2 separate regions of the Homo sapiens genome follow, and region 2 is linked to region 1. Evidence: fine-mapped QTL for protein levels in blood plasma. A gene starts in region 1. The other region holds a variant in brackets. All regions are shown on one strand. Distances are between the middles of the regions.

Region 1 (14,901 bases):
TCTCGGCTCACCACAACCTCCACCTCCCGGGTTCAAGCGATTCTCCTGCCTCAGCCTCCCAAGTAGCTGAGATTACAGGCATGTGCCACCATGCCCAGCTGATTTTGCATTTTTAGTAGAGACGGGGTTTCTCTATGTTGGTCAGGCTGGTCTCAAACTCCCAACCTCAGGTAATCCGCCCGCCTCGGCCTCCCAAAGTGCTGGGATTACAGGCGGGAGCCACTGCACCTGGTCAGATGTGCTTTTCTTCACGTTAAACTTTTTATTATAACTGTGGGTTTGCACGCAGTTGAGTTCCTTCACCAGTCTCCCCCAGTGGCAAGTGGCTAACATCCTGTGGAAATACAGCACAGTATTTCAAGCAGGCTATAACACGGGGACAGCAGCAACCTTGTTCAGATTTCCCCAGTTCTGCCTGCTCTCATTGGTGTGTGTGTGTTCAGTTCTGTACAACTTGATCACATTGTTTGAAATATGTGAATACACCCATCTCATTTGCATCTCCTGGTCCTGCCACCTCCCTCTTCTGCAGGAGGCATCTTTTTGCCTCAGGCGGCCTGGACTCTCAAGAATGAAAACTCGGCTTTAGAATTCCAAAACCAGGCTTTCTGAGTTTGCACCTGGCCCACGGGCTTGAAAGGCAGACTTTGTTGAGATGAGGATTTTGTAAATCTTTTATCTCTTAATATTTCAAGATAGGAGTAGATGTCCTGGAATACAGAGGTGTCTGTGAGGGGCTCTGTCTGCCCTTAGGAGCCTCTGGGTATAGGCTGCTCTGCAGGGCAGGCCCAGCAGGATAGACACGGTGGAGCAGAGGGGCTGAGTTTGTCCTTCCTGGGTTTCTCTGTGGCAGAAATAGAGCCCAGAGGCTTCTTATGCCTCAAATGGGGATGCAGAGCTTGACTGAGGTATGGGCAGGGGCAGGCTGGCCCCCCCATGGCCCACCGGGGCTGGGCTTTTCCCATGACAGCCAGGTCTGGGGGTTGTGGTAAGGCCCAGAGTCCTGCCAGCTGCAGGCCTGGTGCCTGTGCCCATGGCACGCCAAGCAGGCTCCATCAGCCTCCCTAGCTGGACAGTGGCCAGCTCACACCGGGGCCAGCCGCTGCCTATGAACCTCGCCCTTTGCTCTTGCTTTGGGGCCCTCTGGGACTCCCAAAGAATTCAGATCTCGGAAGACCACACATTCTCTTGGGGTGTGTGAGTAGGGACCAAGCAGCCTTGAGACAGGGCCCGAGGGTGACCTGAAGCTAGAAAGCAGAGGGCAGCACTAGCAGGGAAAGCCTGTGTTGTCCTGGGTTGGCTTTTGGTGCTCCGCTGGAGAGGGCAGGCTGCAGCAGGGACAGGCACGTGCTGCCAGCCGTGGAAGCCGGAGACTCCGGGTAAGGGCAGGAATTGGCTCACTGTGCTACCCTCTCTACTTCTGTGTGAATTTAAACTCTTCGTAAACAAAAGTCAAGAAATCAAATAGAGCCTAACAATTATTGGATCAGACTGGGATTACAGGATGGAAGTAATACAGGTTTTCTCTGCCACACAGTGGGATGGGCTCTCAAGAAGATGGGAGCAGATAAAAAGAAAAAGCTATGATTGAGTTCTGGTCTGGACAAGGAGGTATAGACCCATTTCTCCAGCTCCCCTCTTCTAAGCTCAGCTACAAACCCTGGAAATGGCACCAGAGATAGAGTCAAAGGAGGGCGTGGAAAGATGGAAGAGGAAGGTAAGCGCGTCAAGACCCTAGGACAGGAGGAACAGCCCAGCAGCAGGGCACCTTACAACCCCACCCGGCAGGAGGACGTGGTCCAGGCCGGGCTGGGGGCTGGGGGCTAGGCTCTGCCCAGGAGCCCAGGACTTGGGTTTCTCCAAGGGCTGGGAGTCGGGAAATGGGAAGGTGGAGAGGACCCTCAACCAAGGCTCTCACCAGGGAGGGGACACTGTCCCCTTGGCCAAGTCACTATCCTCTGCTCAGCCTCAGCTCCCTGACCTGAGAAATGAGGGAATTATGCCCATAGGGCAGCCGAGAGCACTGAATACAATCATGCACAGAGGAGGCCAGCGCACAGGAGGGCCTGGCACACAGGAGAAGCCGAGTAGCTGGTTTTGAATATGCGGATGCTGATAGGGTGCTTCCCACAAATCGACAGTAGGAATACCTAGCCCTTGGCGTAGACAGGGCTGTGGAATAAGCGTTTGCTTGCTTATTGCTTACCATGACCCTATGAAGTAGGTCCCATTATTATCCTCACTTTACAGATGAGGAAACCAAGGCTCAGAGAGGTTAAGTAACTTGGTGAAGGCCACACAGCTGGTTAGACAGAGCTGGGGTGTGAACATAGCACCTTTACTCCTAATGATAATGTTTAACTTTGTTTTCCTACAACTGAGGCTGAGACCTTCCTCCTTGGCCCCCAGCCCAGGTGGTCCCTCCAGGGACCAGCCTGAGGGTAGGAGGAGTGTCCCAACCCCAGTCACCCAAAAGCCAAAGTCAAGGGCAAAACACGTACCAGGAGGCCCTCACCCGGCCCAAGGCTGGTCAAGACTGCATGGCAGTCACGACGGTATAGACGTGGGTGGCATTGGTGTGGACTCCCTTCTCCAGCCCCCTTACCTGAGGGGTGCCTCTCCCAGCCTCGCGGCCTCAGCTGAGCACCCACTGGCTCTGTGACCTTGGCAAGTGGCCTCATGTCCCTGGGGCTCAGCCTCCCCATCTGTAAGGAGAGGCCCACAGAGCTGCTGTTGGATTATAAGAGATGTGACTGACAAGGGCTCAGCACGCAGACCTTGCCCATAGGGTGATTATTGTTGTCAAAGACACAGCCTGAGGCCCTGGGTGGAGCACAGCCTCCAGCCCAGCAGGTGTGAGCCATACCCCATCCCGTCTGCTGACAGAAATGTGCCTCCCTCTTTTCTGCTGGCCTGAACAGCACCACAGCACTTGTCACCAGCCCAGGCCTTCAGCCAGGTGGACGACCTGGTGTACCACACACCCATGGTGTGACCCTGTCCCTGGATGCTCTGAGAATAGAGGAGATGCTGTTGCTGCCCCATAGGCCCTGGGCCCAGAGAAGGACGCAGACTCCTCCCACCAGGAGCCAAGGTTACCCTCCCCCAACCCTGAGTGTCTAATTCCCACGAACTCTCCTTCTTAAAGGAGGGCAGGGAGAGAAACGAACAGCAAGAACCATAGCTATTTGGTGCAAAAAGAAACGTGGTCACTGAGAGATTCCAGGAAGTGTCAAGGCCAGCCAGGTTTACCGCTGCCGTGCTGAGCCCTGGCCTAGGGACAGGTGAGCCCCCTCCCCACAGTGCCACAGGGGCGGGCAGGGCCTGCTCCATAAAGCCATCATTGTGTCCCACCTCTGTGCCCCCACCCAGGGCCCGGGTCCCACCAAGGCCCTGGGGCCCTGCCCAAGAAGAAGCTTCCATCAGAACAGTCAACTGACTTGTCAAGCCAACTGTAATCTAGCAAGAGGGCGACTCTTTAATAGCAGTGGCGATGAATGGAGGTAAAAAGAGCAGGACCTGGTGACGAGGAGCATGGGGGCCGGCCATCATCCTCCAGGAAGGGCACTGGCACCAAGTGAATTCCACAGACAGAGGGGTGGCCAGTCCAGCCAGCAGAGAGTGGAGCAGAGTGGGAGCTGGTCCCGAGCCCCAACGATCAGGCAAGGCTGCCTGGAGGGCACTGACCATGCCCTTCTAGGCATCAGGGCCCAGGACTGAGGCCACCTTCTTCCACCTGTGCCCCGGCCCCTGGTGGCTTAGGCAGCTGGGGTGGGAGCAGCAAGCACCCCATGGTTGAGTGACTTTTCTCGGACTAGAACATTTCACCCTCAAAAGAGCCGCCATCCACCCCACCCCACCCCCAGGGAACATCCCCAACAGTGGAGCTTGTCAAGCTGCTCAGTGCCCTCTCTGGTGGCTCCCCCGACCCGGCCGAGTCGGAACCCCTCTGGGCAGTGAATGACAGCCATCTGGGAGGAGACCCACTGGCCACCGGAAGCTGCGAGCAGTCACCCCCCACCCCATCCAGGCTGTGATCCCGCCTCCACCCTAGTCGTCTAAAGACATGTCCCTTGGGAAGTTTCAAGCAGAAGAACCAGGACGATGCCCTTGGGGCAACGTTACCAGGTCCCTGTCCTGCCTCCCAAGCTGGCAGAACCCGCCAGGCCTGCCCACAGTCCCGCTGCCCGGGGAGGAGGGTGGGCTCCACTGGACAGACTCCGAATCCCGGCCAGGCAGCAGTCCAAGCCCCCCACTTGCCAACAACCCCACGTCACACGCGAGGGCAGGGGGCCAGCCAGGGGGAGGTCACCGAGCCAGCAGGGCGGGGGGGGCGGGCAAGGGCCGGGGAAGCCCAGGACCACGCTGCCCCTACGAATTGCTCAGGTTCTCCTCTTCTGTTTATCCTACCCTCTTCCCCTAAGGACTGAAGCGGGCCTGGAGGGCCTAGAGAAAGGGCACAAAGAACAGCGAGGCCCTGGGCGGGCGTGGAGGGAGGGGAATGGCCCTTCCGAAGCCCCGGGCCTCTTCCAGCGCGGTCCTCGAACCGAACCGCAGGACCCCTGCTGTCCCCGGGCAGCGGCCGGAGCGCGTCCCTCGGGTCCTGGGAAGACCTGCCGCGTCTGCGGGCTGCCTGGGAGCCCAGGCGCCCCGCGGTGCTGGGGGAGGAGCCCGGCACGGGGCCGCTGGGCGGCAAAGGGGCCGCGGGCTCCCTGGAGGAGGCGGCTGCGGACGGGGCCTGGCGACCTCGGAGAAGGTGGCGTCCACGGCGCGCAGCCCGGCGCCCCAAGCCTGCCGCCGGGTCGGGGTCGGGGCCGGGGCCGGGCCCCGCGGGTCCGCGCGAGCCGGAGTCCCCTCTAAAAGTTTGTCCCCAAACGAAACCCCTCTCTCTGCCCCGCGTGGGCAGCGGGGCCAGCCCCACGGGAGGCTCTGAGGACAGACACGACTGCCCTCCTCCACCCCTTGGCAAACAACAATGGGCGGCCGCCGGACGAACGACGAGGGAAGCGAGTGTGGAAAATCCCCCAATTTTTTGCAAAGTCAACCGCGGGCGCTCGGGGGCCGGGCCGCGTGCTGCCCCCGCGCGGCCGTCCGCGGGACTGTGCGCCGGGAGGGGGCGCCGCTGTTGATCTCGTGGTTCTCAGACTCTGAGACCGCACGGTGGGCCGGGAATGAGGCTTCATTCCTGAAGCCGAATGTTAATGCCTCTTCTGGGATCATCACAGCCTGCCACTAAGCCGTGTTCTTTTACTTTTCTTTGCCATTAAGTCAGAGATCACGCATTAAAGAATTGGTGAAGTGGATCTTCAGGGGACAAAGCCACTGAGCAGAAGAGCTGCCAGTGCTTTTCCTTGGACCCCACAAGCAGTCAGGGCCAGAAGCTGCCCCTAGCAAACACTTAGCTCATATGCACTCTCGGGGCTGGGGCAAACCTTGGCCACGCAGGAGATCACCCAGGGAAGAAAGGAAACAGCGCGCAGAGCGCGCCTCCTGAGACCCTGGCTGTGTCCGCTGACCTCCTGGAACCCCACGCCAGCCCCAGACTGTGCGTTTCTATCCATTTTCCAAGACATGACACTGAGGACTCATCGCGGGGAGTAGCGGGAAGTGGTGGGGAGTAGCGTGATGCAAGCTGCCCCGCCAACGAGGGCTCGAGCTGCCTTCCACTCGGCTCAAGTGTCCACTGATTGATGGGTGGCTCATCTGACTTGACTTTCAGAGCCCAGAAACTCACCTACAGCCTTAGGGTCTCAGGTGCCTGTGCAGGGCTTCAATCAAAGTGGAAGACTGAGCAAAGTCCTGTAGCCAGCCAGGCAGATTTCCCTCCTCTTAAAAGAATTCTAGAAAGAAAGGGCTTCCTGGCTAATGTGAGTGCTTCCCATCAGCCAGTGTGGCAGGTATGAAGTTGGATTAAATAGCTTGTTCTGGGAGATGTTGCTCCATGGGTCAGGCTGCTCTGGCTCCCATTCAAGGGTGGGACCTTATCACAGGCACTTCGTCCCTGCCTGGGCCTCAGTTTCCCCCTTGGGACAGTGAGATCATCACAGGGTGGAGCCATGGCCCAAGTACCGATGGCTTCGTTGGCCTTCGGAGCTGCTCCAGCTTTCCCTTGAACACTCTGGGCCCACGTTCCCCCTTGGTGGCAGTGACGGTCACCAGGCTCTCAGGAGTGGCCCCTGTAGACGCTCTCATCCCTGGCCTAGGGAGCTGGGGCAAGTGCAGAGGTGGGGAAGGGGAGGGTTCTGGGGCTCACAGCAGGAATCAGGATCCCAGCTCTGCTGACTCTCATGGGGTGAGAGTGGTTGACCTTGGAACCAGGGTCTTAACCCCTTTGAACCTCAGTTTTCTCTTCTGTAAATGGATATCACAGCCTACCCCCGCAGATTTGCTGATGGAATTGGAAATGACACCTCTACAATGCCTGGCACCCAGCAGGTCTCCAAAAGAGCAGCCTTAATTATGATGTAGCACGAGGATCCTTATCTGGGTAAGGACATCTGGGGGGTGGACCCGGGGCAGCTGTGCTCCCCTAGGCCACACAGGAAGGCTCCCCAGGGCTCAGGCACAGACTGCGTCAAGGGGCTGCAGGCAGGTCCAAGCACACTGCAGGGCGGCCCCACCTGTGTCCCATGGGGACTGCACCCCCACTCCTATAGGAATGAGTCACTTCTGGAGAAGCTTGTCCAAGCTGCCCCCAGGACCCTCGGGCCAGGGACAGTTTTAAAGCAGCCTACAAGATGAGCAGGGGCTTTGGGGCCCTAGGTCCCACTGAGGACCCCACACCATGGACTCCAGGGTGCGCTGGGCTGTGTTGAGGGTTCTGCACCCGCCTGTCCACAGCGGATATTCTTGCGGTCCCTTTGGAAAATGCATGCCGCCCGCTCAGCTGGGTTTGGGGTGTTGGTTTTTCCAGCTCTCTGGGTTTGCTTCCAGGAGGGCTTTCTGGTGTGATGTTGTCTACGTTTAACAGCTTTACTGAGGCATAATTGACACCCCATGATCGCTTCCGGTCCCTAACAGAACGGAAGGCAGGGCACCACCCCGCCTCCCCCCCCACCCCGTCCCCGGCAGGGCTTGACGTGGACACTGGGAGCCCACGCCTGGCAGCCAGACTCGCTCCCAGAGCCCTCGCTGGCCTGAACCAACACACTAGGGCCCACCGCGGCCGGCCCTGCAGCTGTGAGATCCTGGCAGGTCCCAGCCCCACTCCTGCGCTTCCGACGGGCTGCAGCCTCCGAGTACTGCCAGAGCCCAAGCAGTGTGAGTGGGCACCTGGCGGGACCCCCCGCCCCACGAATGCCGCGCGTGCTTGCCAGGCTGGGCGGCGGCGAGTGAGGAGCCCGCACCACCCGGCCCACACACGAGCCAACGTGGAGCGAGCCCTCCGCAGCCAGGTTGGGCCCGGGCCGCTGGACTCTCCAACCAACCCACGAAAGACAGAATATTTGGTGGGCACTCACGATTCTTAAGAATTGGCTCAATGTTTTATAACTCTTTCATTGGAGTATAATAAACATGGATGGGGGAAAATGCACCTCGTCTGATATTCTTTTCAAACAAGGAGGAAGCCATAAAGCCGCTCCGCAGGCCTCTGCAGACAGCCCAACATCTCTTCAATGCGGGGCTGCGGGGCACTGTCCCAAAGCCAGCCGCAGGGGTGAGGGGGTCGAGCAGGAAAGGAAAGCCTCGCTTTCCCTCTCGGTCCTGGTGGTGGGCGGCCCCCGCCGCCCTGGTCCCTGGAAGTGCAGCCCAGTAGGCTAGCGTCTAACTTCAGCGCCCCAGCGTGCAAGGTCAAGGCCTTTCCTCCCGCGCGGGCTGCGGGGACGTGGGCGGCTGGGACTTGGGGAGGAGGGGGTACGGACCCAGGCTCCAGAAGCGCCAGCCGCCGCGCCCCCTCACCGCGGCCCCCGCCAGGAGAGCCTCCCACGCCTCGGCTCCGCACTGCCGGTTGGTCCCCCACTCCCCTGAGGGCGGAATCACTTCCCAGTCGCTGGCTGCCCGCCTGCTAGCGGCCTCGCCACCGCAGCAGACCCAGGTCCCGCGCCCAGCACCCGCGGCGAACCCCGGCACTCCGGAGGCGGGGCCGAGGATCGGCGCGGGCGGCGACGGCAAGAGACGCCACGGGGGCGGGCCAGGGGCGGACCGGGGCGGGGCGGCGGCGGCGGACTGCGGAGACGCGGCGGCGCGCGGGGCGGCGCAGAGCGTTCTCGGCGCGGAGTGGAGCGGAGCGGGCTGGTGCTGGGGGCGCGGAGAGCGCTGTGCTGGCCGGGGCCGGGAGCGGGGCCGAGCGGGAGCGGAGTCGGGCGTCGGGCCCGGGGAGCCGGGGCCGGGCGGGGAGCAGCCATGGCACCGCGGAGGGTCGGGGCCCGCGCCGCTGCGGGCGGCCTGGGCGCCGAGTAGCCGGGCCGGGCCGGAGCGCGGGCGGCGGCGGAGGCAGCTGCGCCCGCGCCTCCTGCCCTCCCAGGCCCCGCGCCCCGCGCCCGGGCCCCGGCGATGGTGACACATGCGGCGGCGGCGCGCCGGCGGCAGGACCATGGTTGAGCGCGCCAGCAAGTTCGTGCTGGTGGTGGCGGGCTCGGTGTGCTTCATGCTCATCTTGTACCAGTACGCGGGCCCAGGACTGAGCCTGGGCGCGCCCGGCGGCCGCGCGCCGCCCGACGACCTGGACCTGTTCCCCACACCCGACCCCCACTACGAGAAGAAGTACTACTTCCCGGTCCGCGAGCTGGAGCGCTCGCTGCGCTTCGACATGAAGGGCGACGACGTGATCGTCTTCCTGCACATCCAGAAGACGGGCGGCACCACCTTCGGCCGCCACCTCGTGCAGAACGTACGCCTCGAGGTGCCGTGCGACTGCCGGCCCGGCCAGAAGAAGTGCACCTGCTACCGGCCCAACCGCCGCGAGACTTGGCTCTTCTCCCGCTTCTCCACCGGCTGGAGCTGCGGGCTGCACGCCGACTGGACCGAGCTCACCAACTGCGTGCCCGGCGTGCTGGACCGCCGCGACTCCGCCGCGCTGCGCACGCCCAGGTGAGCGCCCGGGCGGCGGGATCCTCGCGCAGCTGCGCCCCCGAGGCCGGGCCGTATGCCCGCCGTGCTGTACTGGGTCGGCCCTGCCTTCCCTACCCCCTTCTGCCCTCTTGGGGGCCCCCACTCGCCGGCACCCCTCCCGACCTGCCGAGCGCCCGAGGCTCCCAGCTCCTCTGGGTGAGCCGGCTGTCACCGCGCTTTCTGACCTCGCTCTCACTCTCTTCCTTGCCTTGTGCTGCCCTACTGCCGGCTTGACTGCGCAGCGCCCGGGTTTTCTCCAGGGTCCCCGCCCGCTGCCCTCGGGCCACCTTACCTGCTGTGCGCCGTGAGGTCTGGCCCGCCGGACTTGGGGACGCGGGCTTCTGGGTGTGTGCGTGGCCTACCTGGAGTGTTGGCTTCCCCGTGCCGCTTCGGTGCTGTGGTCCCAAAAGTGGAAGTGAGAGTAGTGAGGTGCCGCCCCTGTGCCTGGAGTGCCTGCCTTCAGAGGGTGGGGGAGCTGCCAGGGAAGGGGGCTGGCTCTGCCCGCCTGCCTGCCGGTGTGTGCAGGTAGAACAAAGGCCCTGTTGACCTGGGGCTGGGGGCGGGGAGGAGGCAGTACCGCCTGTCCTCCCAGTGGGGCCTGCCAGCCGAATTCTTCCAGGCACAGGCTTGCCTGGAGAGAGGAACAAAAGCCACCCGATGGGGGACCACCTTCCCCAGGAAGCTACCAGCCAGGTTGGGGGTAGTTGAGCTGGTCCAGGGAACCTGTGCTGCCACACCCCTTCTCTGGGGTCCCCCAGCCCCATGTCAGAGCTGAGCTGCGTGAGGACACAGAGCATGGGAGGGGTGCCGGGGCAGCTCTTCTGGGAAGCCGTTTGTAGGGGAACCTGGGGTGCTGCTGGGTTTCCAGCAGTTAAAGTTGGGGTTATTTTCCTCCTGTTCCTGTTGGTGCCCATTCGTCCTGCAGGGATGCCCTGCGGGGCCTTTCTCCCCAAAGTCTGGGCTGGGAAGGGCCAGGAGCAGGGCTTCTTGTCTGCCTTTTGTTTCTCTTCCAAATTTGCCTTAGGACTGAATTTGCAGACAGGCTGGTGGTAGGAGGCTGGGCGGTTGTAGGCGTGTTGGCTGGCACTCTTGGGTCCAGAGGCTGTAGGCTCTCAGGTGTGCCTGGGGAGCCTGGAAGGTCCAGCCAGCCTGGAGCTGAGCAGAGTCCGAGACACTGCTCCCCTGCACAGACCTCAATCCTTGCTCTGTGGTCTTTCTCAGGCTGTCAGGAAATTGGGGTCCTAGAGTTGGAGGGGCATCTTCCCACTTTTCTTTCTCCCCCCTCCCCCAACTGTACACACACACACCCACACACACACACACACTGCAGCTCCCAGCCTGGGAGGTGATGTTCTGAGCCTCTTACAGCCACATTCTACACTTGGCGGTCACAGAGCTGCCTGTCTAGGGCCCCTGAAGGATTGCTTCCGGCCCAGCACTTAGTCTGCTCTGCACAGATGCACGTTCCTGCTGCAGGGCCCCCCTAACCCTGGTCCAGCTTCTCTGTGCTAGGCTCAGCTGTGCCTGGGACCACAGCCATGCCCCCACCCACCCTTCCACCAGTCAGAGCAGTAGGCTCCCAGAGTTGGTCACTGACCAATACCAACAGACGCCTCCCTACCTGTGGGGGGTGCAAGGATGGGGGTCACCCCCTTTGCCAGAGGGACTTAGCTCGGCAGCCTAAGAGGATTGCGTGGAAGCTTCGGGCCGCCAAGAAGCCGGAGCTTTTGAAACAAGCCTGCTCAGCAGAGGCCACCTCAGCCCTAGATTGCAACCAGGATGCTCTTCCTGCAGCCCCGCACGCCTGTGGGTCCCCAGGGTGAAGAGCCTTGGCCTCCTTTCTCTGGAGTTTGTCCATGAGAGTGGGAGGACCAGGTGGGGCCGATGGGGCCCCAGGTGCTACACCAGGAAGGCCCGGCTCCCCCTGCCCAGGGAGCATGTGTGGAGCAAGAATGGAAAACGCAGATGCCTCTGGCGGAGGTGGGCTGCCAGCCTGGAAATTGCTAGCTCAGCAGCATGCGCCAGGGTTGGGAGGGGCTTCCAGGGCCGTCAGGAGGCCCCCTCTGCCACCCACTCTGGAAGTGGGTTGTGCTACCGGGCAGGTGACAGCACCCCACCCTCCGAGTCCCTCTTCTCCGCCTCCACTCCCTTCAGTTCTGTTGCAGGCACTAGGTAGATTGCTTTTTTAATGAGCTTCATCAGGAGGCCAAGGTAATCTTGCCTTTGTGCTCGCAGGGCCAAGCTGCACTGAGGTCCACCTGCTGAGCGCTGCCCCGCCACCTGAGTCTTCTGGCCCAGGCTGGAGCTGGGCTAAGCTGCTCTGCTGTGGCGGTTGGGATGCACTTCCCCCATCTGCCCAGGGACCCAGCAACTCTCTATCAGGGGCAGTGCCCATCCCTGCTGGGGTGCCTCATGTTAAGTGGGCTTGGTGTCAGGAGACTCAGGTGTCACCCTGGCCCTCCTGCGATGTCTTCACTCTGGCTCTGCACTGCCATCTCCGTGTTCTCTGGGGACTGAGACCCTCTTTTCCTTCTATCTCTGCCTGCCTCCCTGCCCAAGGCTGGCTCCTGGAACCTCTCCACCAAGCCCCTCCCATTCCCTGCTGCGGTTTGGGAGGGTCTCAGTGGGCCTGTGGTGCGCGTAAGAGAGGTGGGGCTCTTCCCGGCTGCCAGCCTCCCCATTGCACAGTATCAGCCTGGGCTGCTCTGAGCTGGGCATCCATGGAGATGGACAGGTTTTTGATGTCTTCCTGGAATATGGTTTGGAACTTCTAGTGGCTGTTAGTGCTTGGCTGCCTTGGTAGAAAGGAACAAGAGTGAGCAGAGCATTGGCGGGTCCCTGTTTAGTCCTGTGTTCACCATGGGGGCTGCCTCATCTGCCGACATCAGCCAGGGTGCTTGTAAGACTCCACTGGAAGGACGTTTGCTGGCTGGCCTTAAAGAGGTGTGGCCATCCCCAGGCAGCAGCCAAATGGCCAGCCATTCCAGGGACCACTCGGTTAGAATGTCTCAGCACCCCACACTCCGCTGTCACTCAGAGGGTCCAGATGGTGCTCCAGAGCCAGAACCTCCCTCCTTCCTCTTCCCGTCTGCCTGAAGGCAACGCAAGAACAGGCATGGTCAAGGTCTTGCCCGGGCCACCCTGGAAATGTCCCTGAAATCATGTGGGCTTCATTTGGGGCCACGGAGGGCATCTGGAGCCCAAGTGTGGCATCTGGGCCACCTTGGCCGGGAACCCGGGACCAGCTCACATCCTCTCTGCACCAGGGCCTCTCTGGAGCCCTTAGTGGGCTCGCAGCCTCTGTGACGTTGCCCTGCAGAGACCAGTGCTTCCTTGCTGGAGGGATGGCGCAGGAGCCCGCAGCCTCGCCTTTGACCTGCCCTCCGTGATCCTGAAGCCTTCTCAGACTCCAGAAATCCGCCTGGTGCTGGACCTGTGTGCCGTCCACCTGGTGTGCCTGCTCTCCTCTCCCACTTTTCTGCCTGCTCCTCCCCTCCCTTCAGTCTGCTCAGATGCCCCTTCCTCCAGGAAATCTTCCCTGGCTTTCTGTTCCTAGGCTCCCCTGTTGCCTTAGGCGCCTCGACTGCTGTCCCATCTGACACCGTGCCACCTTGGCACTGCCCTCATGCTGGCACCATGGGAATTTTTTTTTCCTGGACTCTGCAGGATCTGGGCTCTGTCCCTGCCCTTTCCCTGTGACTCAGGTTCACGGAGTCAGTCTTGAGTGTCATGGTGTTCCCTGAGAACCTGGGGACTCCTTGGTGGGGCAGACCAGGTAGGGGTGGGCTTGGATGAGAGCCTTCGTTTCTGTGGCATGCGACAGTTTCCACCTTACCTTCATAATCGCTTTCTTCTTTGAGATCAAGGGAGAAACCCTCATCTGCTGTGATGGGGACAGATGTTACCCAGAGCATGTGACTGGGGCCAATGAACAGGACCTGGGGACCAGGCTGGGGGTGTCACTGTGCCTACATTGCCTAGAGAGGCCTTTGGTTAAGATGAGAAGGGAATCTGTGGTCAAGATGCTCCTAGATTTTCACTAAAAATAGATAAAAAATCCTTTTTTTTTTTTTTTAAGCAAACACATGATAAGGCAAACTTACGAATGGTTGGGTGACAGGATCGTTTTAGATGGTCCTCTAGCTTGGGGGATCATTTCTGCCATGCTGCTCTGGTGGTCTTCAAGCCACAGCTTCCTGTCCTAGGCACTTCACGCATAAAACTGGGGCCTGGGGACTCCTGCTCCTGGATCAGAGAGCCCAGTCCCAGAGAGTGCAGTGCCCACCTTGGTCCCTAGGGCCAGGGAATCCAGGTTTCTTTCTCAGCAGGAGTTCTGGCTGCCACACGGGGGAGTGGCCACCTTGGGTCTGGCATCCTCCAGGGCCCAGGAGGGAGGAGGAGAAGGGGCCTGGTCTTGTCGTCCTTCGGGGAGTTGGAGGCTTTTGCTCTCACACCCCGCTTTGTTGTGGTTATAATGATTGTTTGGTAGATGAGTGGGAGGAAAGTATGAGGCAGAGGGAGAAAAGGAAAATCATCCATTCCCCATGCATGGTTTTTCCACTGTAATTGAAGCCATCATATAAATTTCACCATAAATGTTGTCTGTTGTCATTAAAAACTTAATATTTGAGTGGCTGCAGCTGCTCCGCTCTGAGTGTGCCACCGCTGGTTGGCAGTGGGTGAGTGCGCAGGTTGCTCATTCTGTACTCTGTGGGGACTGCTGCAGGACTGCTCCTTGTGTGTAAATGTTCTGCATAGCTCTGATTTCCTCTGGAGATTCCTAGGAGTGGAATTTCTGAGTTGAATAGTCTGAATGTCTTTACTGCTCTTGGTACAAATGTTACCTTCCTCTTCAGAACACCCACTCCTGGTATGCTCCCACCTGTGGTCTGTGAGCACCCATGTCAGTGGCACACTCATTGGTACTGAATAGCATGTGAATTTTTTTTTTGAGATGGAGTCTCACTCTGTCCGGTGCAGTCTGGACAATGATGGCACGATCTCAGCTCACTGCAACCTCTGCCTACCAGTTTCAAGCGATTGTCCGACCTCAGCCTCCCACGTAGCTGGGATTACAGGTGCCCGTCACTACACTTGGCTAATTTTTTTTATATTTTTAGTAAAGACGGGGTTTCACCATGTTGGCCAGGCTAGTCTCGAACTCGGGACCTCAGGTGATCTGCCCGACTTCGCCTGCCAAAGTGCTGGGATGACAGGTGTGAGCCACCGCACCAGCCTATTGTGAATTTTTTTTTAAATTTATTCTCTTAAATCACCGAAAAGTGCTAATCTTATGGTTTTTATTGCAAAGCCTTGCCCAATGAGTACACCCTTGGGGTGGCCCATCTATGTAGGGCACTTGGGAGCAGCCATGCCCAGTCACCCACATGTCGCCACCTGCTCACAGGTGGCTGAGTTTCACCCCTGCTGAGAGAGGGGTGCAGCTCCCAGGGGCCTGGGGTGCACCCTCTCTGGGTGCCCATCACCATCCCATGTGGCATTTTGCGGGACTGAATTCCGCCTCTATGAGGAACAGGCGTGACAAGCCATGGGGGCATGTAGAGAGGCTGGCAGGGTGACTCTTGTCCCCTGCACACTTAGCAGGCACTTGGAATGGGTCATCTTGTTTGGACCCAACACTCCCCCAAGACAAGTATATGAAGAGCAGCCCCATTTTCCACACAAGGAAGTCAGGCCCCAGAGAAGGTGGAGAATGTGTCAGTCCCTCAGCCTGGAGGGCCAGGAGCTAGCATGTGGACATCTGTCTGTCTGTCCTGAAGGCTGTATGCCGCACCCAGCCCTCTGCTCCCAGCAACCCCTGCATGCGCATGGAAGGCTGTCTGCAGGTGG
Region 2 (14,901 bases), 58 kb after region 1:
GGAGTCTTCCTTGGGTCGTTTCTCCCTTGTGCACGCACCGTTACATACTGTGCAATGCGTTGGTGTCTTGGGGGACAACCCAGCAAGTAGAGTTGGTGTATACGTCATGGCTTCCTCTGGGGTCCTGGGCTGGCTGGTCCGCTGGGCACCCCCCCCCCAACCACCACCAGGCCTTGGCAGGACCCTGGGACTGGGACTGGAGGTGACCCTCGCTGGCCCCTGCCCACCTTCTGTTCCTGCTGAGTGGCTCTTTGGGTGGCACCATGCCCAGGCTGTAAACAGCTGGTGAAGACTGCTGGCCTCAGGCGGCTGTGGCTCTGCGACTTCTCTGGATGCGGTATTGGTGGCTCCACCCACCAGCAGGAAAAAGTCAGGTTGTCCCTCCAGAGGAGCCAGGCCAGGCGCTGCAGGGCACTGTGGTGGTCATCCTGGGTAGCCATGTGACCGTGGCATGCTCCTTGGCATCTCTGATACCGGGTTTTGAAACGACTGAGAGCTAAGTGCAGGAGTTGGTTGGCATTAGAGGCGAAGCCCAAACTCCTGTAGTGGGGACTTTGACTCAGAGCAGCCCTGGTAGCCCCCCTCATGCTGCGTCACAGCCCTCACCTCCTCTCCCCGTCTCCTTGCAGGAAGTTCTACTACATCACCCTGCTACGAGACCCCGTGTCCCGCTACCTGAGCGAGTGGCGGCATGTGCAGAGGGGTGCCACGTGGAAGACGTCGTTGCATATGTGTGATGGGCGCACGCCCACGCCTGAGGAGCTGCCGCCCTGCTACGAGGGCACGGACTGGTCGGGCTGCACGCTACAGGAGTTCATGGACTGCCCGTACAACCTGGCCAACAACCGCCAGGTGCGCATGCTGGCCGACCTGAGCCTGGTGGGCTGCTACAACCTGTCCTTCATCCCCGAGGGCAAGCGGGCCCAGCTGCTGCTCGAGAGCGCCAAGAAGAACCTGCGGGGCATGGCCTTCTTCGGCCTGACCGAGTTCCAGCGCAAGACGCAGTACCTGTTCGAGC[G/A]GACGTTCAACCTCAAGTTCATCCGGCCCTTCATGCAGTACAATAGCACGCGGGCGGGCGGCGTGGAGGTGGATGAAGACACCATCCGGCGCATCGAGGAGCTCAACGACCTGGACATGCAGCTGTACGACTACGCCAAGGACCTCTTCCAGCAGCGCTACCAGTACAAGCGGCAGCTGGAGCGCAGGGAGCAGCGCCTGAGGAGCCGCGAGGAGCGTCTGCTGCACCGGGCCAAGGAGGCACTGCCGCGGGAGGATGCCGACGAGCCGGGCCGCGTGCCCACCGAGGACTACATGAGCCACATCATTGAGAAGTGGTAGTGGCGGTGGTGGCCACGGGGAGGCCTCTTGGGGGGTGTGGGGGATAAAACAGGACAGACGACAGGTCCACCCAAGACTGTCAAGGGATGAGCATCCCAAACCTGCTCCACAGAGGTAGCTGCGTCCTGAAAAAAAACAGAGCAGGGATGTAGTGGGGCTGGGCAGGGATGGGGGCTTGAGAAATCAACAGGTGCAGCCCAGTGGGTCAGAGGAAAGCGTGCTCGAAGGATGCCATGGTCAGGGCAGGGCCTCCAGAGCAGGTGTTGTGCCTGGAGCTGCTCTCCTGGCCTCCTTGGATTTATCGCAAAAACTGAAGGTTTGCGCAAGAGACGAGGACAGCGGAAAGTGGACCTGCCAGGCCGGGAGTGTGTCCCTCACCAACTATGCACACAGCACTCGCTCTTAGCTCCTCTGTCCGGGCTACTAGGAGTGAGACCAGCTTCTGGCAACTGCCCCAGCTCCAGGCCATCCCATAGCCCCTCCTCTTCTGGCTGCCCCCAATGCCCCGAGGCCTGGGGAGCCCCCAGCTCACCCATCTGTAGCTCCCTCAAAGTCAGGGCCCACCCCATCTGAGGCAGAGAAGACTCGAGTCCAGCCCCCAGGAAGCCTGCTCCCCTCTCTGGCCCATGGTCCTGCTTCATGCTTTGGGTCAGGAGGCCAAAGCTGATGTTCAGGCCCCACCCACTCCCTACAGTCCTCAGACCAAGGAGGGGTTTGGGTAGTAGGCCCGAGCTGCATTGCCGGCCTTCCTCGGGCCAACTGGCAGCCCAGGAGTGGGGAGGCTTTGGCCAGGGATGCTGCCACTTGTGCGTGAGTCCGCGGCTGGCCCTTGGAGGTGACCATCCAGGCAGGCCTGGCTCAGACTGGAAGGGCTGGGGACCGAGGGCTCCCCTGCCTCTGTTCTCCTTTCTGACCCACTGGGATTTGCTAGCAGGCTGCCCCAGCCCCATCACCGAAACACATACTCAAGAGCTCAAATACCACTGCTCCCACCAGCGTACGGATTAAGTTCATCAGGCTTCCATCGGCTGGAGCATGGGACCATAGCCCCTGCCCAGGAGCCGTACCCTCGGACCACAGTGGCTCTGTATGGCCAGGAACTGGGACTCGAGCTTTCAGATTCTCAACTAGCCTTGGCAAAACAGCTGTAGGTGGCCTCCCTGACAACAGACACTCAGCCCTCCCCACCCTGGCTCTCCTTGCATTTCCCCATGCTCCCCACCCCCTGGCAAAAGGCTGGCCATGCTCTGTTCCCAGCAGCCGCGCAGGTTTCCCCACTGGCTGCAATGGCCCTACCAAAAGCCATGTTGCATATCCGTTGTAAGCACGTGCCCTGTGCCCTGTCCCCATTCCTTATGCCCTAGGAGGCCAAGCTGGTGTCTCTAGGAGGGCCCACACAGGCACCCTGGATCCCCCAGAGAGTAGATTGGTGTGCTCAGGCCGCAGGCTGACTCAGAGGTAGGGCAGTGGGCTCTGCAGGCCACCTGGCTGGGGTTGGTGGGGGTCCTCTCTCCTGCCCCAGCTTCCACTCAGCCACCACAGTTGCCACACCATGGGGTGGAGACGTGGGTCACCACGGGCTTGGGAGCAAGCGCCTTCTGCAGCACAGGAAGCCGAAGCTGGGGTCAGGTGAGGTCGCTACCCCTGGAGGTCTGGCATAAGGGCCCCACCCTCAGGTCTCCTACACTGGCCCCATTTTACTTTGGGGTCCAAGGACAGGATGGTCAACAGGGCAGGGTGGACAGCGTGCCAGCGCCGCGCAGGGCCACCTCCCTGGGTGGATGCATCACACTAAGGAAGTGAGTGCCAAGGGGATTTAGTGGTGTGGTTCTTTCAAAGGGAGGTCAGGGTCAATGGGAATCTGCTCGGACACTCAACATGGGGGTGGGTGCACTCCTTGGAGGAGGAGGAACACGTTCAGGGGATTGTGAGGTCTTGCACAAGCCACGTGGGGCACCTTGGCTTCCCGGCAGGAGGTGGACACCCAGCCAGAGGCCTGGCTCAAGGTGACCTCACCTTCACCATGGGCTTCCTGGGTGCGCGGGCCTGAGCGCAGGTTGTTTTGTACATATTGGAATATGTGTTAACTTATGCCCCGCATCCCAACTCACACGGAAGCACGGGTCTTGTCTCAGTCTCTTCGCTGCATTTGGAAAGCAGTCTCCTCTCGGGCCAGCGCCGGGCTGAGGTGTCCAGAGGCGGCGGCAGCTGGCAGTGCCCTCAGCCCCCAAGTGTCCAGCCTGGCACTTCCCATTCAGGCCACCTGCTTTGGGTCAACAGTTCCTTTGCCAGCAGCATCTCCTAAATTGTAAGGACTCTGTCCACCGGGGCCCTCCCAGGGCTGTGAGGACGGAAACAGGCAGGGAGTGGAGCTAACAGCTTAGTCACCAGGACCCCCAGACCTGCAAACGTCCCCTCCTGGAAGGGGAAGCCAGGAACAGCAGAACTGCCCACAAAACAAGGCTGTGAACTTTTCGGGAACTGGAACTGTTTAACTTGAACCCAGGATTGTTTAAAGCTTTATTTATTTATAGCTTCTTCTTAAAAAAAAGTGTTGAAGAAATTTTTTGGTTATTCATACAAAAAAATGAGTTGATGATGGAAAAGCAAGTCATAATCATCTAATTGTTTTTGTCTAGGTCGAGAATGAATGTTAGCTGATGAAATAAACCCTGACAAGGAGTGGCGGGTGTGCTGTGGTCTCTGCGGGCATAGCTGCCCCTCCCAGTGGGGTCTCACACCACGTCCCAAGGGCGGGGTGCTTTGCACAGGTGCAGGAGGCTCAGTGAGGAAAGTCCCATTAAGTAAGGCATTCTGAAAGAAAAAATGGGACTTTGTCATCACCATAAAGAGTAACCGTTTATTAATCATTAGTGATAGTATTTGGGAAGATGACACCAGTTGAGAGGGAGGCAGGTGCCACTGAGTTACATTCTCATTAACCTCTTCCCTCCCTGTCTTTGGAAATTTTGAAAGATTTCAAATGACAAAGAGAGTGGAGGAATAGTTCATGGACACCCACATGCTCTTGGCCTAAATTTTTCACCTTCTCTTATCCTGTGCCCACACTTTCTCATACACGCACACACGCGCGCTTTTCTGAAACATCTGAAAGTAGGTTGTGATCATCAGAATACTGCACTCCTAAATCCATCAGCTCGTGTCTCCTAAGGACGTTCTGCCACAAAACTCAACCCTGTTATCCCAGCCCCCCCCCCAGATTTTATAACAATACAGTATTTTCCAATATCCAGATCTTCTGGTTGTCCTAGAGATGTCTTCAGAGCATTTTGTAGCCCCAGGACCACACGGTGCCCCATGTGCCTCTCCTGTCTCCTTGAATGGAGGAGAGGGTCCCAGCTACCCCTTCTTTTTTCCGTCTTTCTTAGGATTGACATATTTGACTAGTAGAGACCAGTTGTCTTAAAAGGTCTGCTGATGTTGGCCGGGCGTGGTGGCTCACACCTGTAATCCCAGCACTTGGGGAGGCTGAGGCGGGCGGATCACGAGGTCAGGAGATCGAGACCATCCTGGCTAACGCGGTGAAACCCCGTCTCTACTAAAAATACAAAAAATTAGCCGGGCTTGGTGGCGGGCACCTGTAGCCTCAGCTACTCAGGAGGCTGAGGCAGGAGAATGGCATGAACCCGGGAGGCAGAGCTTGCAGTGAGCTGAGATTGCGCCACTGCACTCCAGCCTGGGCAACAGAGCAAGATTCCTAAAAAAAAAAAAAAGAAAAAAAAGAAAAAAAACTACAGATGTCAGTTTCCTAGTGGTCAGATTCGGTGAAATTGGGTAGGAAGGCCCTCGGGTGAGGCACCTTCCATCAGCCCAGGTGTCCTGTGGCTCTGTTCCCCAGATGAGGGAAGTCCAGCCTCCCCACTCAGCCCCTGGGGAAACCCAGCCATAGTGGTCACCTGCCAGCTCATACCTGCCACCATCCCAGTGACAAAGGTCACCAGGGTGTTTCTGGGAGGGTCACGGCTTCTACCTGCCACCATCCCAGTGACAAAGGTCATCAAGGTGTTTCTGGGAGGGTCACGGCACAAGTAGGGCAGGAGTCAGAACGTAGCTGCCTTCTTAAAACCCCAGTCTCAGACTCCACGTCAACACCTGCTCATGCCTAGGTAGAGTGCGGAAGGGAGGAGCAGAGGCCAGACGCCAAGAGGAACTCCCGAGTCCTTCCTGGACACTTCATGCGGAGGTTTATTTGGGGTGTGGACCAGCCCTCAGCCTGGCTTCTCCCTCGGGGGAGCCAAGATGGAAGCTTCCTCCACCTTCTGATAGTACCACTGGACTCTGTAGGGCCAGTGTCATGATCAAAGGTGAAATCAGACCTGAAAATACCTCACCCAGAATGGGGGTTTTCCTCTTCCTGCTTCTCTTTAGAGTTGAAGGCCACCTTTTTTTGTTTTTAAAGACAGAGTCTTGTTCTGTTACCTGGCCGAAGGCCACTTTATTAAAGTCCACCTGAGGCCAGGTGCGGTGGCTCACGCCTGTAATCCCAGCACTTTGGGAGGCCGAGGCAGGCAGATCACTTGAGGTCAGGAGTTCGAGACCAGCCTGGCCAACATGGTAAAACCCTGTCTCTAACCAAAAATATATAGTCGGGCGTGGTGGCATGCGCCTGTAATCCTAGCTACTGGAGAGGCTGAGGCAGGAGAATCGCTTGAACCCAGGTGGCAGAGGTTGCAGTGAGCGGAGATCATGCCATTGTACTCCAGCCTGGGCAACAGAGCAAGTCTCTGTCTCAATAAATAAATAAATGAATGAAGTCCACCTGAGCCAAAGACTCAGGAGGCTCAGGCCTGCCCCCTGCCCAGCTCTCATCCCCACTTCCTGCCCACTGCCACAGAGTCCCCACTGTGAGCGTCAGGCTCACCCGATCCTCCGAGGTCCCCTGCCCCCTTCTATCCTGCCAGGGAAACCCACATCTGCCCTTGCTCCCGGGCCTGTGGGTTTGGACAAAGGCAGCTCCTCTACCACCCAGCCTCGTGGCCAGCGCCATATGCCTCATCCCTCCTGCCCCGGCGTTCTGTCTTCACACCAGTTGCTCCAGCCATGGCCAGCCACGGCCCTGTCCCTGGATGGGCCTGTTAGGCCTGCTCCCCACTGCTCCCCTTGGGCTTCATGCCAAAGCCATCAGGCCAGTATCAGTCCTCACACCCTGTTCAGCTGGGGGCACCTTTGCACACAGCGCTGGGTTCTCTTCCTTGGGGAAGCTGGGCCCCAACTAACCCTACCTAGACGTGGTCTAGGTGCCTGGCTTGGGGCCCCTGGTCCCCTTCATTGTGGCACAGAGAGGAACCCATCCTCAGGCCACCCTCGCAAAGGTGGGAGCCCTAAGTCCTCTCCCGGGAGTGTACACCTGGACTCGGGGAGCTTCCAGCCTAGGAGGACTCGGAGGGCACACAGTGTATTCATGACATGAGGACACCTTCCTAGGAGGGCCTCACCTCAGGGCTCCAAGGACACCCCTGGCGGGGAGAGCCTGGGTCTGGGTCCCCTGACATGTAGCAGCAGCAGCAGAGAAACCTGCAGGAGTCGCTTTGTCAGATGAGGTCTTGGGTTCCAAGTGGACCACTGGCTGCTGTTTGCTCCTGTGCCTCCATTTCCTTCTCTGTGAAATGGGAAGGCTGGGCCAGGTGTGGTGGCTCACGCCTGTAATATCAGCACTTTGGGAGGCCGAGGCAGGCGGGTCATCTGAGGCCAGGAGTTCGAAACCAGCCTGGCCAACATGGCAAAACCCCACCTCTACTAAAAATATTAAAAATTAGCCAGGAGTGGTGGCGGGCACCTGTCATACCAGCTACTCGGGAGGCTGAGGCAGGAGATCACTTGAACCCAGGAGGCGGAGGTTGCAGTGAGCCAAGATCACGTCACTGCACTCCAGCCTGGCAACAGACTTCGTCTCAAAAAAATAAAAAAAAGAAATGGAAAGGCTGCTGTGAGGATCTGGCTGCATCGGGGGAGCCAGGCCTGGCCCCACACCTGCCCACAAAGGCGGACAAAACACTGACCACAAATGAGCCACCTGGGGGCTTGTTGAAAGCACGGAATCCTGGCCCCACCCACTGCCTTGCCGCTGCCCAGCAAAACCATGTGGGCCCAGCCTCTCCTGTGGGCACACCCACACACTGTCCCTCTCTCTCCCCTTTCTTTCCCCCAAAGGGCCATGACCGTTTTCCATGCAGCCCTGCCCGGCCCTGCCATCCTGCTCCCAGCCCCACGCTGAGAGGACACCTGTCTGCCTCCCTCCTGCCGGCCCTGCTCCCTGCTGCCTTTCACTGGCCTCCAGCTCTGTCTGCACCAACACTCCCAGCTCAGCCCCGGGCCTCGGGCTTCAGGGGGGACTTGGGCTCCTGGGGCAGACCCAGAGGAGGGTCTGAATTCATTCAGCACTGCCCAGACTTGCCCAAAACGTGGCCTCTTTAAAGAAACTACTTACATCCTGTTAAGCCACTCGTCCCCTAGCAGGGACAGGGCGCTCACACATGGTCCCCCTCACCCCACCTTGTAGAGGGATCATTGGTCTCGCCAGGACCGCCAGCTTCTGCCTTCAGCAGCTCCACTGCAGGGGTGTCCAGGGCGGCAGGAACTCAGAGTCTAGTCTCTTGGCTCGGGCGAGACACAGAGACCCCTTCTGGGGCCCAGTCTGTCCCCTCTAATGGATGCCCTGCCCTGAGCCCCCACCTCAGCCCCAGGTCCCCCTCGCACCCCAACCGTGTCTGAGCGCCCACTGCCGTGTCTACTGCACTGCACCCAGCCAGGCCTGCCAGACGCCCCTCGCAGGATTCCAGGTGGGCGCCACAGCCCATCTCCCAGCGCCCGGTCCCAGCAGAGGCCACAGCCATGGAGGGCTGAGGTGGGGTGTCTTCCCTTTCACCTGTGCCCCGAGACTTCCCCACCCCTTGCACCTTCTCACTGTCCCCTGCGACAGGGCGTCCTGACTGCCCTGTCCTCCCACCCTGCTCTGTGGCTCCTCGGAGCCCTGTGATTTCTATGCAAGAGGAAGCCTGGGGACTTTGGAAAACACTTTTCTTTCTCAAACAAAAAGCCAGGCATTCAAGACAAGCCTCTCCAAGACTCCAGGGAGTCAGCCTGGAGCCGTGTGGCTCAGGCTCAGGAATGCTTCTTTGTTCCCTGCGGTGCCCGCCCAGCCCCAGAAGCCGAGAAGGCCCGGGTCCCAACCCGGGGAGCACCAGGCAACGTTGCTCGTGAGGGCTGAGCGGGTGGGCCCACTGCTGCACAGCGTCCTCTCCGGGCAGCACCGCCTGATGATGCCTCAGGCACAGCAAGAGCTGGAAGGGGCCCTCGGCTCTGGGAGAAGGACTTCCAGGAGAGCTGGCTGAGCTAACAAAGGCCGCTTGTGTGACTCACGCCCTTGCTTAGGAAGCGGCCCTGCACAGCCTGGCTGCTGCTTCTGGGATCTGCCGAGAAGTGCCGCTCGGGAAGTGGCCTGAAGTCGGTCCCTTTCCAGCGGGCACTCCATGAGGGCAGGGGTTTTTCTACCTGGAAGATCTGAAACTCAGGCATCGTGGCAGAGCCTGCTAGCTGTGCCTTGGTAGTTGTTCTCCTCTCCTTCCTTAGTAGTAGAACCACTACATATCAGCGGTGACACAGCAAGCCAGAATCAAGACTACACTTCCCAGCCCCCTTTACAATGACATGTGCTGTCACTACACCCTGTGGCCAACAGTTTGCAAGAGGAAATGTTCCTTGCAGCTTTGGGAGACAATCCTGAAACAGAAGCAACTTCCTCCCTTTCTCCTACTGAATGGCTACAATGAGGATGTAATGGCTGGAGCTCAAGCAGCCATGTTGGACCATGAAGTAGATGCCATGTGGTGAGGGTGGTCGAGCAACAAGATAGGTCCTTGATGATTGTGGAACCACCCTAATAGCTTTGGGATGCCTACCTTAAGACTTTATCCATGTAAAATAGAAATAAGTGTGTTCTGGCCGGGTGCAGTGGCTCACATCTGTAATCCCAGCACTTTGGGAGGCCAAGGCAGGTGGATCACCTGAGGTCAGGAGTTAAGAACCTGACCAATATGGTAAAACCCCGTCTCTACTAAAACTACAAAAATTAGCTGGGCGTGGTAGTGGGCACCTGTAGTCCCAGCTACTCAGGAGGCTGAGGCAGGAGAATTGCTTGAACTCAGGAGGCAGAGGTTGCAGTAAGCCGAGATTGCACCACTGCACTCCAGGCTGGGTAACAGAGTGAAACTCCGTCTAAAAAAAAAAAAGAAAGAAAGAAAGAAATGTGTACCTTGTTAAGGCCACTGTTGCTTGGGGTTTCTGTCACTCTCAGCTGAACCTAATGCTAACAATGGTCCGGCCACTAAAGATCAAATTCCTGCAAAGAGCATAGCTGGAGGCTGCAGCCCATGTAACAACACCTTCTTTCCACCAACTACTCAAGACACTGCTGCTGTTCCTGGCTTCATTTATGTGGAAGTGTTAAAAGGCCCAGAGAGGGGAAAGGCGCTTTTTCCTTTTGTACCTTTTGATTTTTGAAACATGTGAATGAGGCCGAATGCAGTGGCTCACACCTATAATCCCTGCACTTTGGGAGGCTGAGGCGGGAGGATTGCTTGAAGTCAAGAGTTCCAGACCAATCTGGGCAACATAGCAAGACCTTGTCTCTACAAAAAAATAAAATAAGATTAGACAGCAGTGGTGCTGCATGCCTGTAATCCCAGCTGCTTGGGAGGCTGAGGCGGGAGTATCAATTGAGCTGAGGAGTTGGAGGTTGTCGTGAGCCGAGATCAAGCCACTTCATTCCAGCCTGGGCAACAGAATGAGACCCTGTCTCACAGAAAAGAAAGAAAGGGAAAAGAACGGGAGGGGAGGGGGAGGAGAAGGAAAAGAAAAGAGAGAGAAAGAGAGAAAGAAAGAAAAAAAGAAAGAAAGAAAGAAAGGAAAGGAAAGATGAAGACAATGAAACATGCATGAATTACCCATTCAAAACATAAATAGCTGGAAATAAAAACAAAAGCAAAATGGAAGGGAAGATAAACACAAATTCATGACAGGAATTTTCTCAAAATTGCAAAATGGGGACTTCTCAGGCTGGAGGAATAAGGGAACATCAACTTTATCTGTAACACTTTACATATTTTGATTAGAAAATAAGACAAGAAGAACAATCATCACCTCTGAGTGATAGGTACATTTATATATAAAAATTTATAAATTTATAAATCTATTAATATGTATAAATATTTGAATCTTATATAAATGTGTATATATCTTATATAACAATAGTATATATTAACAATATAAATACATATAATAAAGCATAAATACATACTAAGGATACATGTTGTTCTTTGGACTTTCCTGTGTGGTTATGTGTCTCAAAATAAAGTCATAATTTGAACAAGCCTGCCTGTGAGTTCAGTGCAGAAGCCTGGACTACCTCAGGCTACCAGCTCCCGAAACAGGAAGGGACCTGGCACCCACAGTCAGGTCCAAGCACTCCTAGGACATGGACAGAGGACCAGGCTGGTTGGCACCTCCTGGGTGGCCAGGTGCCATGAAGTCAGGGGAGCCGAGGGACACGGGCTTTAAGCTGTTCCACACCATGTTGCTGGATTAATCATGGAGCAATGGTGACACCAGTCCTGGTTCCCCTGGGGAACACATCTCTGTTCCCCCACACATCTGTTTTGTCCCTTTTCACAAGAGCCCCCAAGACCAGCTGCCACAGCCCCACTGCACACAGCGCTGCCTGGGTGAGGGGACGTCCACTGAGCCAGCAATGCTGAGGGGGACACCTTGGTGGAAAGGGCCCTGCCTCCCGGCCGACCCTGTGGCCTTCTTGTGGCACATGACACAAGCAGAACCAATCAGATCACTGCCCAGGATTTCTTATTTAAGATTTTTATTTTTTTCAGATGGAGTCTTGGTCTGCCCCCAGGCTGGAGTGCTGTGGCATGATCTTGGCTCTCTGCAGCCTCCACCACCTGGGTTCAAGCAATTCTCGTGCCTCAGCCTCCCAAGTAGCTGGGATTACAGGCGCACTACCAAGCCCAGGTAATTTTTTTTTTTTTTTTGGTATTTTTAGTAGAGATAAAGTTTGGCTATGTTGGCCAGGCTGGTCTTGAACCCCTGACCTCAGGTGATCCACCCACCTTGGCCTCCCAAAGTGCTGGGATTACAGGCGTAAGCCACCGCGCCTGGTCCGGGAGTTTAGATTCTTGTTTTGAATCTTTTCCTCTTCTCTAATGGAAACATTTCTTGCCGTACATTTGCCTCTCAACACTGCTTAAGCTGCCTTCTATAAATTTTAATGTTACATTTTTATTCTTAGTTCAGTGTTTAAATTTCACTTTAAGGCTTCCTCTTTAACTCATGGAATACTTAGAATGACATTGTTTAGTTCCCAAATGTTGGGAGATTTTTCTGTTATCTTTCCGTTATTGATTTCTAGTTTTATTCCATTGTGGTCAGAGAACATGCTCTGTATGATTTCAATTATTTTAAACTTGTTGAGATTTATCACCCCGTCTATGGTCTGTCTTGGTATATATTCCATGGACACTTGGAAAGAAGGTATATATACTGCTGTTGTTGTGTGGAGTGTTTTACAAATGCCAATTAAGTCTGTTCATTGTTGAATTCTTCTATATCCTTGCCAATTTCTGTCTAGCTGTTCTATCAATTTTTGAGAGAGGAATATTAAAGATTCTAACTATAATTGTGGATTTATCTATTTCTCTTTTCTCAGTTTTGTTTCACATATTTTGTAAGTGTCTTGTCTGGTGCATACACATTTAAAATTACAATGCCTTCCTGGTGGATTTTGACCAGTTTAGCATTATATACTGTCCCACACTATGTCTGGTAATTGTCTTTGCTCTGAAGTTTGCCTTCTGATATTAATATTGTCACTCCTGCTTTCTTTTGATTAATCTTCACATGATATATCATTTTTCATCCTTTTACTCTCAACTTGCCTATATTGTTTTGTTGTTGTTGGTTTTGGGGTTTTTTTGTTTGGTTGGTTGGTTTTCTTTGGTTGGTTTTTTGCTTTTTGAGACATGGTCTCGTTTTCTCGCCCAGGCTGGAGTGCAGTGGCACAATCATAGCTCACTGCAGCCTCTACCTCCAGGGCTCAAGTGATCCTCCCACCTCAGCCTCCCACCTCAGCCTCCCAAGTACGTGGGACCACAGGCACATGCTGCTACACTTGGCTAATTTTTGCATTTTTTGTAGAGATGGGGTTTCACCATATTGCCAAGGCTGGTCTCAAACCCCTGGCCTCAAGCAATCCTTCTGCCTCAGCCTCCCAAAGTGCTGTGATTACAGGTGTAAGCTACCACACCTGGCCAGCCTATATTGTTTTATTTGAAGTTAGTTGCTTGTAAGCAACATAGAATTGGGGCATGTTTTTTAATCCATTTTTTTTTGTCTTTTAATTCGTGTATTTACACCGCTTACACTTAATATAATTATTGACATGTTAGGTAGGGCTTAAGTCTAACACTTCATATTTTGTTTTCTGTTTGTCCTCTCTTTTTTCATTTTTCTATTTTCTTTTTCTTGCCTTGGTGTGGTTTGGCTGAACAATTCTTTAGAATTCTATTTTCATTTATCTGTAGTGTTTTTGAGTGTATCTCTAGATATAGCTTTTTTAGTGGGTGCTCTAGTATTACATCAGTATACAGAATTTATCACGGTCTACTAGTGTCATCATTTTACCAGTTTGCATAAAGTATAGAAACCTTACCTCCCTTTTTTATATCCCTTTTTTCTCCCCCATTTATAATTGTCTTAATAAATACTTCTTCTCCATACACTTAGAACCACATCAATGTTACAATTTTTGCTTCAACCATCAGATACAATTTGGAAAACTCAAGAAGAGAAAAGCCTATTGTAGTCACCCATATTTCCGCTTACCATGTTCTTTCTTCCTTCCTGGTGTTTCAGGGTTCCTTATTTTATTGTTTCCTTTCATGTTTAGAGACTTTCCTTTAGCCACTCTTTTAGGGTAGGTGTGCTCGTGACCACCTCTCTTGGTTTTCCTTCATCTGAGAATGTCTTGGTTTATTCCTGAAAGATTTGGGGAGCGGGGGTAGTAATGAGATTTTGGGTTGACAATTCCTTTCTTTCAGCACTTGAAAAAAAATTATGCCACTTTCTCCTGGCTTCCATGGTTTCTGATGAGAAATACACTGTCATTTCAGTTGTTTCTTCCTCTAGGGGTAATGTATTGTTTTCTCTGGCTACTTATTAAGATTTTTTTTATCTTTCATTTTCAGGAATTTAATTATGATGTATGTTGGAGTGGATTACTCTGAACTTATCCTGTTGGGCATTCATTCAGCTTCTTGAATACATAAGTTTATGTCTCTTGCCAAATTTGACAAGTTTTCAGCCATTATTTCATCGCATACTTTGCCAGCTCCACCCTCTTTCTTCTCTCCTTCCAGGATTTGGATGGCATTAATGTAAGATCTTGTTATAGGCCCACAAGGTTCTGCTCATTTTTTTAAATCTGCTTTTTATCTCTGTTTTCAGATTGGGTAATTCCTTTTGTTCTGGCTTCCAGTTCATCGGTTCATTAGTTCTTTCCTCTGTCCCCTCCATTTGCTATTGAGACCATCTGCTGAAATTTTTACTTCAGTCATTGTGTTTTCAGTTCTGAAATTTCCATTTGGTTCTAGTTTGTTTGTTTGTTTGTTTGTTTGTTTTTGTTTTTTGAGAAACAGAGTCTTGCTCTGTAGTGCAAGCTGGAGTGCAGTGGGATGATCTTGGCTCATGCAACCCCTGTCTCCCAGCTTCAAGCAATTCTCGTGCCTCCCAAGAAGCTGGGACTACCGGCATGTGCCACCACACCTGGCTAATTTTTGTATTTTTAGTAGAGACAGGGTCTTGCTGTATTTCCCAGGCTGGTCTCGAACTCCTGGCCTCAAGCAATCCACCTGCCCCGGCCTCCCAAAGCACTGGGAGTACAGACGTGAGCCACCGCACCCAGCCTGGTTCTTCTTTATAGCTTCTATTTCTTTGCTGAGACATTCTATTTTATCCTGTGTTTCAAGAGTGCTTGTAATTATTCATTGAAGCATTTTTATCATGGCTGTTTTAAGAATTATTGTCAAACTTCTCAAATAATTCTAACATCCCTGTCATCTTGGTATTGGCATCTACTGATTGTCTTTTTTCATTCAACTTGAGATTTTCCTGGTTCTTGATATGATGAGTGATTTTCTCTTGAAATATGGACATTTTTCCTATATAAGACTCTGGATCTTACTGAATCTTTCTGTTTCAGCTTCCAGTCACTGACATGGCTCTGGCGGGGAAACAGGGGAGGTGCTGTTGCTGTCCCGGCACTTCCAGGTGTAGATGCAGGTTCCTCGCTTGGTTCTCCTGACACCTGAGGTGAGGGGCTCAATGTTACTGAAACCTGGGAGGGGCTCATAACCAGCCACTGGGGATAGAAGTCCCAGCCCCTTACCTGGCCTTCTCTGACACCATCCCAGCAGACGTTGGGGTGCTTTGTTATAGTTTAGGATCTCACCTTGGCCTTTGCTGGTGGGGGTTGGGGGA

Direction of the effects. Alleles are on the strand shown, and positions count from the first base shown. The strength of an association depends on the size of the effect and on how common the allele is.
As copies of G replace A in region 2, the plasma level of the protein whose gene starts at base 8,199 in region 1 goes down (weak association).

The links. PIP is the chance, under the fine-mapping model, that this variant and not a neighbour inherited with it causes the effect. The UK Biobank Pharma Proteomics Project read protein levels with antibody pairs (Olink). The fine-mapping took linkage between variants from a reference panel, not from the people measured, so its PIPs are less certain.
Region 2: its variant is fine-mapped to the plasma level of the HS6ST1 protein (UK Biobank, PIP 0.98). The variant lies in the coding sequence of HS6ST1. If it changes the protein, the assay may bind it differently, which can mimic a change of level.

The regions. Positions count from the first base shown.
Region 1 is chr2:128,312,166-128,327,066 of GRCh38, reverse strand. HS6ST1 (heparan sulfate 6-O-sulfotransferase 1) reads left to right here and starts at 8,199. Exons shown (of 2, transcript NM_004807.3): 1 at 8,199-9,030. The coding sequence starts at 8,504. RefSeq lists enhancers at 3,232-4,164, 10,192-10,341 and silencers at 4,631-4,840, 4,881-5,200, 7,857-8,266, 8,961-9,190.
Region 2 is chr2:128,254,599-128,269,499 of GRCh38, reverse strand. HS6ST1 (heparan sulfate 6-O-sulfotransferase 1) reads left to right here. Exons shown (of 2, transcript NM_004807.3): 2 at 630-4,020. The coding sequence ends at 1,338. It overlaps LOC124907886 (a long non-coding RNA gene), which reads left to right and starts at 14,332. Exons shown (of 2, transcript XR_007087231.1): 1 at 14,332-14,733. RefSeq lists enhancers at 6,426-6,927, 6,942-7,511, 8,083-8,653 and a silencer at 8,551-8,845. The variant G/A (reference allele first, on the strand shown) is at 1,019.